Regions from separate parts of the Homo sapiens genome. Here region 1 is linked to region 2. The links come from fine-mapping of genetic effects on gene expression. A gene starts in region 2. The other region holds a variant in brackets. All regions are shown on one strand. Distances are from middle to middle. Region 1 holds the start of MTSS2 (MTSS I-BAR domain containing 2). Region 2 holds the start of VAC14 (VAC14 component of PIKFYVE complex).

Evidence for each region. PIP is the estimated chance that this variant, and not a neighbour inherited with it, causes the effect.
Region 1: its variant is fine-mapped to the expression of VAC14 in whole blood (TOPMed, PIP above 0.99).

The regions. Positions count from the first base shown.
Region 1 is chr16:70,684,912-70,693,190 of GRCh38, reverse strand. It overlaps MTSS2 (MTSS I-BAR domain containing 2), which reads left to right and starts at 7,138. Exons shown (of 15, transcript NM_138383.3): 1 at 7,138-7,468. The coding sequence starts at 7,400. It overlaps VAC14 (VAC14 component of PIKFYVE complex), which reads left to right. Exons shown (of 19, transcript NM_018052.5): 18 at 220-370; 19 at 5,101-5,752. The coding sequence ends at 5,263. RefSeq lists enhancers at 1-177, 178-1,005, 5,104-5,610. The variant T/C (reference allele first, on the strand shown) is at 3,169.
Region 2 is chr16:70,797,968-70,806,230 of GRCh38, reverse strand. It overlaps VAC14 (VAC14 component of PIKFYVE complex), which reads left to right and starts at 5,073. Exons shown (of 19, transcript NM_018052.5): 1 at 5,073-5,434. The coding sequence starts at 5,331. HYDIN (HYDIN axonemal central pair apparatus protein) reads left to right here. Exons shown (of 86, transcript NM_001270974.2): 86 at 1-4,147. RefSeq lists enhancers at 5,038-5,097, 4,765-5,387 and a silencer at 5,178-5,367.

The DNA.
Region 1 (8,279 bases), 110 kb after region 2:
TCCTGGGGGAGGTGGGGGCAGCGCGACTGGCTGTGAAGGAGCCCCTGACTCGCTGGAAGCCACAGCCACCTGGCTGGGTCCACACAGCTGGGTCCTTGGGCTGTGGGTGCCATGGCACCAAGTCCCAGGTGGTCCTGGCCAGTCGGAGGCAGGCAGTGTGGGCTGGGCGTGTCCCAGAGCAGTGCCAGGTCCCTGACCCCTGCCCTCTGCCTACCCCAGATCTGCGCCTGCAGCTGCTGGACGTGAAGAACAACCCCTACCTGATCAAGGCCCTCTACGGCCTGCTCATGCTCCTGCCGCAGAGCAGCGCCTTCCAGCTGCTCTCGCACCGGCTCCAGTGCGTGCCCAACCCTGAGCTGCTGCAGACCGAGTGAGTGCCGGCTGGGGACTGCTGCCCCCGCCCCCTGAGCAGGGACAGGCCCAGAGGAGCCTGGTGAGGAAGGGCCTTGCCAGGGGCTGCTGAGGCCTCCCTCACTTCAGCATCCCACCCCTTTTGTCACTGTGACCACCATCCCCCCCGCAGCCACTTGCCCCTTGGCCTCTTGTGTCCACATCAGAGCACCGAGCAAGGGATTCTGGGAGCCCTCACACGGTGGCCGGGAGTAGCAACACTTCCAGGCAATCAGGGTCCAGCTCAGTGAGGCTATGCAAAATCTAAAAACTCTGAGGGCATCTGGAGTTACCCAGACAGAGGACCCTGGAGAGAAACACCGGGCAGGGGGAGGAGTTCCTGCCCCAGCTTAGAGATGGGGGCCCCAGTGGCTGTCTGTGCTGGGCACCTCCCAGGCCTCACATAGCCCCTCCCCACCCTGTCTGTGGCAGAGGCTCAACCCTGGGTCACTGGGAGACCCCATCATTGCTAGGACCTTCTCAGCCACTTCCGGGGTGGGGTGGGAGGCAGGGGTACACTCAAGGCTCCCCTGCTCAGGTCCTGCCCATGGAAGGAACAGGTCCTAGGCACCCCTCCACCAAGAGGCCCAGCTTGGCAGCCTCTGGTCAGAGGAGTGCCGGCTCCCACCCTGAACCCACGGCTGGCCCCTACCCCAGAGCCTGTAGGGCTGCATCTATATTTGGTAACCCTTGGAGGCTTTGCCTCATCCACAGGCATTTGGCATCCGAGATGGAAAATTTCACTTGTCAGGTCGCCATGGAAACCAGCAGAGCCACTGAGAAGATTTACGCTGAATGGAGCGCGCCCAGCTTGCATCAGATGCCCTGTGTGTCTAGAATTCCCTCCCAGGCTGTTAGAGCCACTCAGCAGGCCTGGCGCCTTGCTCCAGCAAAGGGCCTCGGGTGCTCGCCTTTGCGATGGACACAGGCAGCCTTGAGACAGGCCTGCCCGGAGGCCCTGTGCCCTCCACACCGCTGGCATCGGCTCCCACTGCCCCTCCCACCCAGACTGGCCCTCGGATGGCTGAGTGTGGGGCACCTGATAGGCTCTCTGCCCCAGGCCAGCTGGAGAGGCTGAACCCCTAGAAAGTGTGGCCCCAACCAAGACCGGCTCGTGCCTTCCCTGCCCCATTTCCCCAGAAGGCAGTGCCCTGCAGTGGCAGGACTAGGCCTTGAGCCGGTTGCCACCCCAGCTGCTCAGGGTGCTGCCAGGTGGTCCCCAGAAGACAGCACCTGATGCAGTGTCCCCAGGGGAGCAGGGTCAGCCATGGAGCGGGGGCGCATGTGTGGGTTCCTGGGGCCGGAGTGCTGTCAGCTCCCGAGAGACTCCGAGAGAGGCCTAGAAGCCACACCGGGCCTTGCTGGCCCAGCCTTTGCCTTGGCCCTTCAACGCCCCATAGTGTTAGGGTCAACCTGGCAGGCACCCAGGAGGGGAAGGTGCAGCCGGAAGCAGGGAGGAGGCAGGAAGGGCTGCTTCCCTGTGACCTCCAGTCTCCCTGTGGGAACCAGCCTGCCTTCCTGGGAGTCCTCCTGGCCAGGGAGCCAGCCCAGCCTCTCCCGGGTCTCCGAGTGCTGATCTCCTCGTCTTGGGAGGGGAGCAGAGGCTCAGAGCAGTCAGACTCCTCAAACCAGGGTAGAACAAGTTTGCAGAGGGAAGCTGGGAAAATGAGGCTTTCCTCAGAATCTCCCACGGTCAGTCAGGGAAGTCTTGAGCCAAGGGGTTGAGGCCTCTGGGTAGAAGATTCTGAGGGTCAGTGGATGCTTTGCAGGCCTAGAGTAGGATCTGGTGTGAGCTCTGCCATGGATTTGTTGTGTGACCTCCAGCAAGCCCAGTGCCCTCTCTGGGTTCTTGGTTACTTGGTCAGTAAATGCACATTTGGACTAAATGGGTGTGTGAGACACCCCCTAGCCTTCAATGCCCTGGACCCCCAGCCTTACTTTGCAACGACCTAGGAAGAGATACCATAGATAGGGGCACAGAAGCAGTGGGCATGCCAGGGGACTTCAGAACAGCTGGGGGAGGGGTCAGATTGCAGGGTGGGGCCCAGAGGACGGCTCACACCCTGGGAAGGGAGCTGAGGACAGTCCCAGCCCTGGGAGGGGCAGACAGCTGGCAGACAGGGTCGAGTTGCGGGGCAGGCCTTGGAGCTGGGAACAGCTGGGAGAGTTTTGTACACTCCTCGCCCATCCCTGGTTCTGTGTGCTCCAAGTGCCATCAAGGCCCTGGGGACCTCAGCTCCCCCACCCCCTGGCTTCTGGGCCACTCCCCAGTGACTGTCTCCTCAGTAAGGCAGGAGGGAACCTCTAAGAAAAAGCTGGCAACAGGTGCATGGGTGGGATGGCAAGAGTGAGAGCCGGCCCTGAGTCCTGGACTTGCCACACTGTGCTGTGGGCTGGCTGGCCTCAGCCTCGGTGCCCGAGGGTGGTTATGGACCTACAGAAGATGTGCAGGGCCTGAGAGCAGCCATCTGCATTAGGTGGGGCAGGGAGAGCGGGCCTGGCCTCTGTGCTCAGCAGCCCAGGCAGTGTCACCCACCCCCGGTGACACAGCCCGCCCTGCTCCCAAGATCTCAGGCCAGGAAGGGTCTGCCCATCACAGGGAGCAGGACTTCTTGCCACCCTAAGGGCCCAGGGAGCAGATGTGGCCCACTCTTCCCACCCCGACCAACCCTGCCACACCGACGCCATCTTCCCGGGTTTGCCATCCAGTGCTGAGAGCATCTCTCTAAAGGCCCCTAAGCTCCCCTAACCTAAGGCCTTGGCTTGCCAGGAGTGTCA[T/C]GGGGAGCAACGCACAGACCTGTGGGTGCCCAGCATCAGAAGACACACTTTAGGGTCACACCTGTGGCCTTGGCCTAAGTGGGTTAGAGGAGCGTCTGGCCACACCCTGGACTTAGGGCTGCAAGCTCCGGGGTGGCCCTTGGCCTCCTTAGAAGTCCAAGCTGCTCTCTTGGAGCAGTGGCACCTGGTTCCCAAGGTTACTGTGCCTGGGAGGTCCCTTCCCAGTAGCAACCACAGCCTAGAACACTGCCCACAGCCTGGCCCTCTAGAATGGCCCCGCCCAGCTGCTTTTGATCTTTGTTGAACTAAAGTCAGCTGAGCCCCGCTAGGGAGCCAGGAGCGCCAGGCCCAGAAAAGCAGCAGCCGCAGCCGTAGACATGTCCAAGATGTTTTCTGGTGGTGCATCTTCAGCAGGGAGGCGGGAAGGGAACAGGTGTGGGCAGGCAGAGCTGAGCAGGGGTGCAGGAGGCCGCCTCCGGGCCCCAGATGGCATCTCAACTGTGGGAAGAGTCCCCCTGCCCTGGTCCTGCCCAGCAGGCTGGTGGCCACCTGAAGCAACTGTCAGGCTCTGGCCGTTGACTCTTCCTGCTGGACTGAACTCATGGCCAAGAGTTCGTTTTGGGGGAGCTCCTTTTTGTCTCCCCCAAAATGGCCTCCTTTATTTCCACCCTCAAGCTGCTGGGCCCCGGCTGGCCTCACGTTGGAGGGGCAGAACTGTAGCCACAGTGGCACCTGCCAGATACCTAAGCTGGGGCTGGATACCAGGTGAAGCTCTTACACATCGTGTCAAGGCATCTTGGCAGCCACCCCAGGGCCGCTCCTTAGGTAGCCCTCGCTTTGCAGATGAGGAAACAGTCACATGCTCAAGTCACACCGCTAGGAAGCGGTGGAGTTATGGTTGGGTCCAGGTCTGTCTAGATCCTGTGCTCTGCCAGTGCCTGCACCCCCCTTCCCGGCCCCGCCGATTGGCATCTTTTCATAAACTTGAAGGGCCCCAAGACTCTCTGCTTAGCTGAGCAGCCCACAGTCTTCCTGAGACCCCTTCCCAGGTCCACCAGGCCTCAGGGCCTGGAAACAGATACTTCCTAGCCCACATGGATCTGCTCCTCCAAACCAGTGAGGCCAAAGGGAGGGAGCAGAACATTTCATGAGACACTGCTGGAGGGTGAGTAGGAACAGGACAGGAGCCCAAGGGGATCTCATCGCCAGGGGCAAGCTAAGCACTGGGCTTGACAGGGACAGCAAGGCTACCGCATTGCACCATTATAGGGAGCATCATGCACACTAGCTGTGCAGTGCACAACCTGTGTTGCTGTACAGAGCAACTGGAGAGGGTGGCAGCAACAGGAATGTAGGAGCTGTAGGCATGTCCAGTGGTGAGACCGGCATTCCTCCTCCCAGGGACAGTGAGTGACTGCAGGCCTTGGGGCCCCAACACTCAAAAACAAATGTCCTGCCAAGTGGAGGGCCCGGCAGAGGCTCTTCAGCAATTCCCATTTTCCCCAGTCCTAGCCCTGCCTCTCAGAGAAAGGGCCAAGCTGCCACCTCCCCCTTCTCCCCAGACCCTGTTCCAGGCCCCAGCTGGCTTCCTGGCTGGCTGCTAGCCCTGGCTTTCACCCCAAAGGGAGCCACTCGTAAACAGGAAATGCTTCCCAATGCGATGCCTGCTCTGGGCGCCATCGCCAGCCCACAGGCCGAGGGCAATAGCCAAGCAGCAGTGTTAGCTGTTCCCACCAACTGCGGAAGAGGGGGATGCTCAGGGGCTTCCCAGCTCTGGGGCCCGCCATGACGGAAGAGTTGCCAGGCCTGAGACAGACGCCCACAGGCCGAGCCCACCAGCCTGTGGCTCTGCCTCTGACCCCACTGCCCTCCAGCAGTAACCCCCCTGTGAGCTGATCCCTGACACTGAGCATTTCTGCTCCCTCTTCCCAGAGACAGTCTAAAGGCAGCCCCCAAGTCCCAGAAAGCTGACTCCCCTAGCATCGACTACGCAGAGCTGCTGCAGCACTTTGAGAAGGTCCAGAACAAGCACCTGGAAGTGCGGCACCAGCGGAGCGGGCGTGGGGACCACCTGGACCGGAGGGTTGTCCTCTGACAGGCCTGGCACGGAGGAGGGCCCACCGAGTGGTCCCATGAAACACTAAGGGTCGTCACGCCCTCCCGAGGAGCTCAAGGACCTGCCTGTCAGGACCAGGGCTGGGCCTGCCAACCCAGGGCAGTGTTGGGGCCGGAGGCTGCTGTGTCTGCCCAAGCTCCTCTCAGAGTCCAGTCCCCAGGCCTCCAGCGCTGTCAGCTGCACCCTGGCATTCTCACAGAGCTGGCTGCCCACCCAGTGGGGGGCTATAGCCTCAGAGACCACTCATCCTCTGGAATCAACCTCTTTCTAATACCCTCTTGGAAAAAGAGCTTGCCCCTCCTCCAGCACACTAGAGCTCTGGCCTTGTGTGTATATGTATACATACGTGAACACATGCCTGTGTGTGTGTGTGTGTGTGTGTACTTGTATGCACGTAGGCACCAGCACAAAGATCTGAATGATGCACCCCACCCCCACCCCAATAAAGAAATAACAGAAAACCCTCAACCCGAGCCGGCCTGCTCCTTCCCAGCTGACACGTGCAGCTGTCCGGGGGCCTCACCCTCTGTCCTGGAGATCGGGTTTCATGATGGCCCCAAGGAGTACTGGCTGCCCCAGGGCCTGGTCCCTGCACTCACCTGAGTGGAGCCATGGGCCTAGAGCCTAGGTCCCCACCTCTGGAACCTGCACCCTCCTGGAGAGCACCATGCACTGCCTGCCCTGGAATCCTGAACCCTGCCTTCCCCAATCTGCCTTTCTCATCCTGACTCCCTGGGGCAATGGGAGTTCCCCACTGGGGACATGGGAGCTGAGCCCCAGGAGTTCCTGGATGAAAGGGCAATGCACACTGCAGAACACTTTGCAGATCTCGGGGCAAGGGGAGGAAAAGCCCAGAGCAGTCCAGGGAGGGGCAGGTGCCCCAACCACTGCTGCAGCTGAAAGCCCTTCCTCACCGGGAGTGGTACCACCTGTCCCCAGGCTTTGGGAACCCTGGGCTTGGTCTCCTAATGAGCTTGTAATTGGCTCCCTCCGGCCCATGGAGTAGGCGAGAAGGAGCTTGTGCCTGCTCTTCCCCAGAGTGCGCTCCCCCATCGTGCTGCCCCCCAGGGTGGGTTTCCCTGCCTGGAGTCTCCAGGACAGGCTGCGATTGACATTGCTACCCCATGCACGTGTGTGCATCGCACCCACCGTGGACTCAGGCAGCAGAGACCAAGGACACTCCAGCTCTGCTCTGCAGGTCCGACATTAGCCCCCACCCGCGAAGAAGGAGGTTGTTCAAGGCCCAGGAGACTACCACTGCCCCCCAAATGCCCAGCCTTGGGCACCCCATCCGGGTGGCATCGGCACCACTTGGAGAAGGAGCCAAGGAACTTGGAAGGGTCCGAACTTGAGGAAGGTCTGTGCCTGCGATGAAACGTCCCAAGGCGGGCGGCTCCACGATACCCCGCGCCCTGCTGTGTGCGGTGTATGCCACCCATCCAGCCCATGCACCGACCCCATCCCGCCACTGTACCCACTGCCTGTCTTTAGAAGCGCGAGAAGCCCCCCGCCCCAGACCAAAGGCCAGAAGATATCGTGGAGCCCCTGCCCGGGGGCCGAGGCCCAACCGCCAGTCCCGCTCCTGCGTGGGCAGGGCGGGCCCCGCCCAGCGCCGCCCCCCGACCCTCGGTGGCGCCCGCGCCCGTCGGCCCCGCTCGCCGGACCAGTCTGGCAGCGCCCGGGCTCGGATTTCAAAGCCCTGGTTTCTGGCCGTGAATGGGCCTGCGCCCGCGCGGCCGTTCCCACAGCCCCCTCCCGCGCGGCCCGCCCTCCTTCCCTCCCTCCTCGCGGTCCCCCCTCCGCCGCGCCCACGTGACGCCCGATCCTCGGCGGCTCGGATTACCGCCGCCGTCAGTCCCCGCGCCGAGGCTGCGCCGCGAGCTGCCCGCGCCGCGCCCCCCGCGCCGCCCGCCAGCCCCGCTGCGACATGGCCCGCGCCGCCCGCCGGAGGCCCGCGACCCCGGAGCGCGGCGCGGCCGGCCGCTGAGCGCAGCCTGGAGGCGGGAGGCCCGGCCCGGCCTCGGAGCGAGCGCCCGCGCGGCCTGGCCCCCTCCCTTGCGCTGCTCCCCGCGCTCCGTGCGCCTAGCCGCCGCCGCGGCCCGGCCCAGCCAGAGCATGGAGACGGCGGAGAAGGAGTGCGGCGCCCTGGGCGGGCTCTTCCAGGCCATAGTCAACGACATGAAGGTAACCGGGGCGCGGCGGGGCCGGGCGCGCGGCGACGGGTGCGGGACCCCCCGGGGACGCGTGGCGGCGGGTGGCCGAGCCTCGTGTGGCCGCGCGCCGCGGTGTCTGTGTGTCCTTGTCTGAGCGCGTCCTGCCTGCGTCTGCTGGGCGCCCGTGTCTCCGGGTGCCCGTCTGGGGGTGTGGGTGCTCGTGTGTCGGGGTGTCCGTGCGGTGCCCGCGGTGGCCCCGTGGGGTCCTGACCCGAGCCTGTGCACACGCAGGCTCCCTGCGCCCCAGACCGCCAAACCATGAATGGGGTTTGGATCCAGGACCGACTCTAGGGCCCTTTAACGAGTCCGGGGTCTTACCGGCCTCCGCCCCCTTCCACCACCATGTTCCCCCACGGCCCCGGAGCCCAGACAATGCTGTCACCGCCAAAGCAGGAAAAAATAATAAAGCGGAGAACCGTTAACTCCTTCCCCGCCGACCTAGGCCTCTGCACCCGACCGTGAGACTGCGTCCCCCAGCCCCGCCCCACCCCCACAGCCCCAGGAAGCTCCAGGACTCCAAGGTCTCCAGGCTGAATGTCCCTGCATCCCAAGGATAGGCCTTGATCATCACCTTGGGAGGAGGCGGGATGAAGGTTGGGGTCGGTGGAGCAACCCCAAGGAAGCGCTTTTCCTACCCCATTACCACCCTGGGCTCTCAGCTCCGAGCCCTCCTTGTCTCCCAGGATTGCTTAAGGTCAGGCTGGATCCAACCACCCATTCATTCCTCACCCCACCAGGTGGGGAAACTGAGGCCTGGAAATGGCTCAAGGTCACTAAGGAGA
Region 2 (8,263 bases):
ATTTTCCTTTACATACATACCTTTGATTAATTTATAAATTAGGCACAGTAAGACATTAACAATAATAATAATAAAATGTAATAATTATAATAATATGCCAGCATCACTACCCATGTGCTTTGGGGCCATTATTAAACTAAATAAGGTTTCCTTGAACACAAGCATTGCGATCCCATGACAGTTGACCTGCTAACCCCAAGTCATCTACTCAGTGACTATCAAGTAGGTTGTGTCTACAGCATGCATACGCTAGACGAGGGGATGATTCACATCCTGAGCAGGATGGAGTGGGATGGCATGAGATTTCCTCAAGTTATTCAGAACAGCATGCCATTTAAAAAGTATGAATTTTTTATTTCTGGAATTTTTCATTAAATATTTTCATTCCACAGTTGACCACAGGTAACTGAAGCCATAGATGAGGAGGACTGCCATACTCAATAGACAATTTATTTCTATAACCTCTAAAGACACTACTGATAGGTCTAAAGACAACCAGATGACAGATTTTCACAATGGTTAAGTGAGCAAAGATCGCTCTGACCAATAATCTGAGAGGATGCTAAGATCAATGAGCAAGAGTGATGACTTGCAAATATACAGCATCTGTATAAAGTCAGTGCTTCTGAAATATTAGTATACATCAGCATCCCCTGGAGGGCTTACTGAAACAGATTGCTGAGCCCCACCCTCAGGAAGTCCGATCTAGGAGATTTGGGTGGGGCTTGAGAATCTGCATTTCTAACCAGTTCTTGGTGATGCTCGTTGGTGAGACCAATCAGACTGTGAGAACCACGACTCTAAAGCCTCGAGCCTCCTGGTTATTCGGAGTGGCCTATGGACCTGCAGCATCAGCATCACCTGGGAATTTGTTAGAAAGGCAGGCCCTCAGGCCCCACCCTAGACTTGTTGAATCAGAATCTGCATTTTCATGGACCTCCAGGCGATTTGCATGCACATTGCAGCTGAGAGTGCTACTTTAAGGTACCTGGCAAAACTTGACATTTGCCAAACCCACAGCCATAACTCTTTCATTACAGTCCTGAGAAGTCTTACCAAATCTGCATAGGACCTAGTTGATGAAATTAACCCTCCCCAAAATGTGCCTCCTTCCACCTATTCACCAGAGGTATAGGTTAGGAGAAGGGAAGCAATTGGTCCCTCACCCTACTCTTCAAAAGGGTGTACTTTTTCAATAATGGTCAATGTGGTACACCAAGTGATCCCTAAGACTAAAGAAAAGGTGGAAGAAGCTGTCTGAAATCTTGTCTAACATGCCACCAGCCCCAGCATGGCTTATAGCCAGCCTTGGGGTGGCTAGGGGCAACTCCCCCAACTTCAGACCTGTTCCAGTGCTTCCCCAAGCCACTGAAGCTGTCCATATACATTTTATAAAAGTGATCAGGGAGAAGGGAGGGGGAGAAACAAAAACGAACCCAGGTTGCAGCACACTCAGCATTAATCACTAGATCAGCCTGCGCTCAGACCTGCTTCCTCATAGCTGTTTGGTGCCTGCTGTTTCAGAATCACGTAGACCCTGCTAAAGATCATAGTTCCCCTCAATGCTCTGGAGATAACAACTTGAACATTAGGAAACGTTAAGTTTTCCGTTTGAGATATTTATTCTTGGTCCTGTGTACCAGTGAAACAACTGACATCAGCTGATCTGAAGGACCTCACGAGAAGCTGATTCACCAAAGAATGCGGTTTCCACATCCTGATGATTTCATCCGTCTTACCCAACCAATCAGTCACCTGGTTTTTCAGCCCTTCACCCTCCAGGATCCCCTTAAAAACCCCAGTCCAGAACTCTTCCGGGAGATGGATTTGAGGGTCTCCTCCCATCTCATCACTCAGTGACCTTTGATCATCACTTTCTCTGCTGCATCCCCACTGTCTCTGTGCATTGGTCTGTTACTGCACAGTGGGCACACAAACGTGTTGGTCCTATAACACCACTGAGTCTAGGGTCCAAATCCTCCTAGCCCCTGAGAGAGGAGGAAGTTCCTTCTCCCTGGGACCAAGAGCCAAGCTCAGATCCTGCCCCAGTGTGAACCCTCTTCCAGGCTGGTTTGAGATTGGGTGCATTTCTTCCCTTTAGGTTTTTCTCGTGCTTCCTTAGCCTCAAACAATAACAAAATAGTCTTATATTAGCAAATTTGGAATGGCAAAGTAGCTTAACAGCAGGCTTGATGAAAATAACCCTTCCAACACATGCTTGTGGAAGTTACATTGGAGAATCCATTCTCAGCAAAGCAGACCAGGAGACTTCTAACTGGGGGATGTTCAGAAAATGTCAGGGTAGCTGTGTGGCAGAACTCCAAGGAGCACTGTGCACAGAATACCATGGGAATGGGGCTCCCTGGCCTCGTTCCACACTGGGCCCCCAGTGAGTGTGGCATGCTAAGTCTAACCACTTCTTTAGGAGCCTCAAGTCAGAGGTGACAATACTGTAACATTGGTGAGGGCCTGCTACATTTCAAGACCTCTACCTAATACCTTAAACCCTGTTGCCCTGAAACTCCAGCTACAATTACATTGCTGTTGGAGAAACTGCTTTGCACAGTTCAAGATTTTGGTACAATTTCTTACAATGTCATCAGCAGCCTCTTGCTACAAGTTATGTCATAACTTTTACATACTTGTAATAGCTATTATGAATAGTTGTTACAGAACTATTACAAGTTCTAGCATAACAACCAAGCATCACACAGATGCAGATGAATTGTAACTGTGAAATAATGACTAGTATGCAGTCAGGCACATCAGTTATCCCCTAGTCTAGAAGAGTTTCAACAGGAATGGTCACAGGTCAGAGAAGAGGAACAAGGGTGGAAGGCAAGGGTAGCCTTTGGGCTTTATTTTTACCACCACTGCTAGCTCAATTATGCATAAATAATCTTACCTAGTTGGCATTTTTCAAGATATTAGAGAAAAGAACCACTTCTTTCTAGGAACTTCTGACCTAAAGGTAGGCATTGGTCTGGGCCTTGAATAAAAAACTGGTTACTTAGCAACCTGAGCCAGAATATAATTTCAGGAGAAAAGAATACTTCTGGTAAAAAAAAAATTCCTTATTGTTTGAATTATTAAAAACTGTATCATTACCCTTGGGAAATTCAGTTCACCTCTAAGAAAAAGCCAAACCAAAAAGCAAAAGAAACATGAAATATATTAGATATGCGTCCCGTGGAAATGCACACACATTGGAGAAATAGAACCAAATCATTCCCATTGATTTACATTTTTTCAGTGTTTTTCATCAACCATCATCAAAATCCTAAAACCAAACTTTGCAAGACATTTGGAGATGTCCTTGGCAGCACTACTACTACTTGTTAGCGCACCTACCTTCATTCATAGGATTGTGTCAGCAAAGGTTTTAACAACTATGAAAACCCCACCTGTATAGGAGAATACATTTTTTATGGATTTTTCTAGACATGATATATCCATGACTTGCCGAGTTTTGGATTAGCCTTTGTATTCATTTTCTATGGCTGCATAACAAATTACCACAAAACTAGGAGAGCAAAACAACACAAATTTATTATCTCACAGTTTCCATGGGTTGAGAGCCCAGTGTGAACTGGATTCTCAGCTCAGGGTTCCACAAGGCTGAAATCAAGGTGCTGGCCAGCTGCATCCTCATCAGGAGGCTCAACTAGGGAAAGATCTGCTTCCAAGGACCCTCAATGTGTTGGCAAAATTCATTCCTTTGTGGCCATATGACTAAACTCCTTACAGGAGAGTCTCTCTTCCAGTTCAAATTTCTTCTAATCTCTTTTAAGTACTCACTTGATTCGGTCAGGCCGACTCAAGTTAATCTCTCTTTTTATTAATTCAATGTCTGCTGATTAGGGACCTTAATTACATCTGCAAAATCTCTTCTGCGATATTACATAATATAATCATGTGAGTGATGCATAGCCCATCATATTTACAAGTCTTGTTCACGCTGAAAGAGGGCATAATACAGGGCATGAACACGAAGGGGTGGGAATATTGGAGGTCATCCTAGAATTCTGCCTACTTTTGCCCTTTACTCATTGCGTCCCTGTTTCTGTTGAGGAAAATACTCCATTTTCAAGACTGTTATAAGGCCTATATATGCACTTTTCATTCATTAAAGAAAAGTATCACCATGCATTCTGAAACTGTTATTCTTTGAGCTCCACTGTAATCTAGCCCTTGTCCTAAGTCCCTGTTCACTCTGAAAGCTTATGATAGGAAAGGCTGATGCACCTCCCTGTTAACTGCATGTTTACCACACTCCGGCCATAAATTGCTTTTAAATATTTTGCCACATAGTTGGGATTTCTGTCTCACCATGTAATGTGATTCCCGAAGCAGCTGAAGGGGCTGCTTTCCAGGGGACCTATCTAGAGACCCGCACTCAGCAGATCTGGGGCCTTTCTCTCTGTCTGTAACCAGCCCTCCTAGGCATCAGAGCATGTTAAACACACCCCCAAATGGTGGAGTGACAGACACTGGTGGTACCTGAGATCTTAGGTGGTAGACAGGTAGTGCCATTTTTAATTGAGAATTTATTTTGATGTGTCTTAGAAAAAATATACCTATTCAAACTCATGGTTTTAGGGCATAAGCAAAGCTAAAAGAGATTTAAGGTATTTTTTAAAGTGAGTTGATTTGAGGAAAACATTAAATAGATAATACAAGTGGCTAGAATATGGTGAAAGTGATGACAGTGTTACTGCAGTTAGGGAAACGTCTGCATCTAGGAAATTGGTAAGTGACCAACTACTGAATGAACTAGTGAATTCGGTGACTATTGAATAAATTATGTTAAGTGAATCAGACTCCAAGAACCCATTCGGTCTTACGAACGTCTACAGAAGCCCACCACGTGCCATCAGTTGGGCGTGAGCTACACACCCATTAAAGCACGTCTCAAACCACACTCCAGCTACCTGGCGCGCAGCGCGATAGTGTGTGCAGTGTGGGTGGAGCCTTCCGAGGGCGTGGCCAATCCACCTGCGGCCTGCGGTGGGGGCGTGGCTGGAGAGGGGCGGGCCCTCGCGACGGAAGGCGGAAGTGCTGTAGAGTCATGTGACTCGAGTAACATGGCCGCTGTCTCGTGAGTCCCGCTAGTGCCGGGCGGGAGTTGTTAAGCGGCCAGGGTCAGGTGTGCTGGAGCGGGGTCCGGGCCCGGGTTCCAGGGCGAGGCGGCGGAGCGTGGCAGGCAAGCCTAGAGCGGCGTGGTCCATGCGCCGGCGCCGGGGGCAGAGCGGAGCCGCAGACTCCCCTGGCCCCGGCGCGGCCCCGGCAGCCGCGGGCTAAGGAGTCGCGAGGTTCCCCCAGCTGCCACCATGAACCCCGAGAAGGATTTCGCGCCGCTCACGCCTAACATCGTGCGCGCCCTCAATGACAAGCTGTACGAAAAGCGGAAGGTGGCAGCGCTGGAGATCGAGAAGTAAGAGCCGCCAGGACCCCTCCCTGGCTATGCAGCCCCTGACTGCTCTGCTCCCCAGGGGGACTTCTCACGCCTTCCCAGCCAGGGTTACTTTCCCAGGTTTTAGGCCCTTACCTTAGCGCAGTGTTTAAGAGCAGATTGGGAGCCATATCTGGGAGTCCCTGCTTTACTCCTGACTGGCTGTGTGATTTGGTCCCAGCTTTTTAACCTCCCGGTGCCACAAAGGGCTGCAGTGAGAATGAAGTGACATCATGTATGGGTAGTGCTTTGCACAGTGCATGGCACATGGTGAGTCTTCGGTGCGGTGCCACCCAAACCAGCAAATCAGAGAGTTGTCTCTGTGGTGAGAGAGAAGTCAGAAGCCGGAGAATTTGCAGGTGATGCTGACCAGCCTGGTTTCTTACCCAGCTTCTGAGAAGTGAAGGAGATTGTTAGTGACCAAGTAGAGAAATCAGGTCGGAAAACTCGTGATCTCAAGGCTCAGAGAGTTTTTTGTTTTATCTGTGTTATAACACCCTTCCCTGCAAGTGGAAGTAGAAATAATTTGACCTTTCTTGCTTCTGCAGTCTTGTTACATGTATGTGTAACAATGATCTGATATTTTACTTTATTTCCCAATGTACAAAACAGCGAAAGTTTAACTGGGGATGTTTTATTTATTTTTTTTTCTGCAGTATTATTTTACTTTTGTGGGTTTTTTCCCAGTCACATTTTAGTGTTAAAGTCAAGTGAGTGAGTGATTTCAGAAAATTGGAAAGAAGCAGGCTGTGAAACTGGAAGAATACCAGTCTGCGAGTCAGAAAAGGTGAATTGTATTTCTGTTCTGTCCAGTAGAGTAGCCGTTGGCCGTGCGTAGCTATTATAAATTTAAATTATTAAAGATTAAACTTTAGTTTCTCAGTCACACTACCCGTATTTCAAGTGTTCAATAGCCACATGTAGCTATTGGCTGCTATATAGGGCAGCACAGATTATAGACTGTTTCCATCATTGCAGAATGCTCTATTGGACTGCTCTAATCTATTCCGTGGTGTGACATTCATTCGTTAACCTGGGGCAAATTCCTTAACTCAGGGTTTCTCAGCCTCTGCACCATTCACATTTTGGGGCAGATGATTTTTGGTTGTAGTGGGCTGTCCTGTGCCTTGCAGGATTTTTAACAGCGTCTCTGACCTCTTCCCACTGGATGCCAGTAGCACTCCATCCGTTGTAACAATCAAAAATGTCTTCAGACATTGCTAAATGTCCCCTGAAGGAGCAAAATTGCCCCGGTTGACAACTGCTGCTTGCAATCCAAATCAAATGTTGCTTTGGATTTTAGTTTCCTCCTAAACTAAAGGGTTCGGACCTTGATAAGAAATCCCCCACCCTGCCTCCATTCAGCTCTCATACTCAGTATGTCCACAACCATCTAGCTGCTTCTCTCATCAGACACCACTTTCTTGACTGCTCCTTTTATATAGCTTTTTGTTTATGCCTGACTCTCACGAATGCTAGCAAGTCTTATTGCACATTGCCATACTGAATAGAGGGACCCAGAAATGATATATAGGCATGGTTCCGTGTCCATGGGGTTTTGTTGGCTTTGAAGTTGCCTTGACACCTAGTTTTGTCCCTCACCCACTCTGCTTCTCAGGAATATCCGGTTTTATTGTAGCTTGAGTCGTCTGTTGAGTCCTTGAAGAGAGAGGTATTCATCTCAACATTATTGTTGCTTCCAGCGCAACCTGTGTATCTGTTCTCACTCTGCACACAGTTCTGTAAGGGTTTTGTCTTTGATCGAGTTCATTTTGTATTGGACATTGCCCTTGATTTGTGGAATTTAGAGAAACTCAGCAGTGCCTTGACTGTGAACTCCTTAAGAGCAGAGAGTTCTGTTTATGTATCTGTTTTATTTATCCTTAGCACTTAGCCTGGCAGCACTTGACAGCTGGTGTCCGAATAAATGAATGACCGTACATTTTCGGTGGGGAAATAACATTGCAGGCTCAGGACCTTGCTGCCCAAAAGCGTGGCCTACAGACAGCAGCATCAGGATCACCTGGGAGCTTGTTAGAGGCTCTGCAGCTTTGCTCCAGACCTATGGAATCAGAATCTGCATTTTAACAAGATCCCTGGGTGATTTGTGTGCACATTAAAGTTTGAGAAGCACTGGCCTCAAAGACCCTCTCATCTGTTTCCAACCTTCTCCAGTCATGCTTAGAATGAAGAATGGCTGGTTAGTTCAATGCCTTCCTCAGAACATATGCTTCACAAATTGCTTAGAGATAGATACTGACTTACTTATCTGTGCTTCACCAGCACCAGCATTTTGCTTGTCTGAGCACTTTCTATGTGTCAGGTACACATAGGATATTGTATGTTTTAATATATTCTTCATTTGGCCTGGTCAAAGTGACCCTCAGCAAACACAGACTATTAATTAATCTCTCATTAATCAGACTGCAGATGCCCAACAAAAGAAGAGTCCGAATATTGGCAGTTATCTATGTAGTGTAAATGAGTCAGTTCATGTGCTCCCTAAATGAAAGTGCTTAGTCCTGTTCTTAGGTAAGTTGCCCCTTTAAGATACCCTATTTCCTGAGAGGCTGCGTGGCATGGTGTTTAAGAGCAGGCTCTGGAACTGGGGTTCAAGCTCCCATTTACTGGCTAGGTGACCCTGAGCAAGCTAATTAACCTCTGTGCCTCAATTTCTTCATCTGTAAAAAGAGCATAATAATAATATGCATAGAGTTGTTTGAGCTAATGTTGTAAAGTGCTGTGTTAGTCTGTTCTTGCTCTGCTATAAACAAATACCTGAGACTGGGTAATTTATAAAGAAAAGAGATT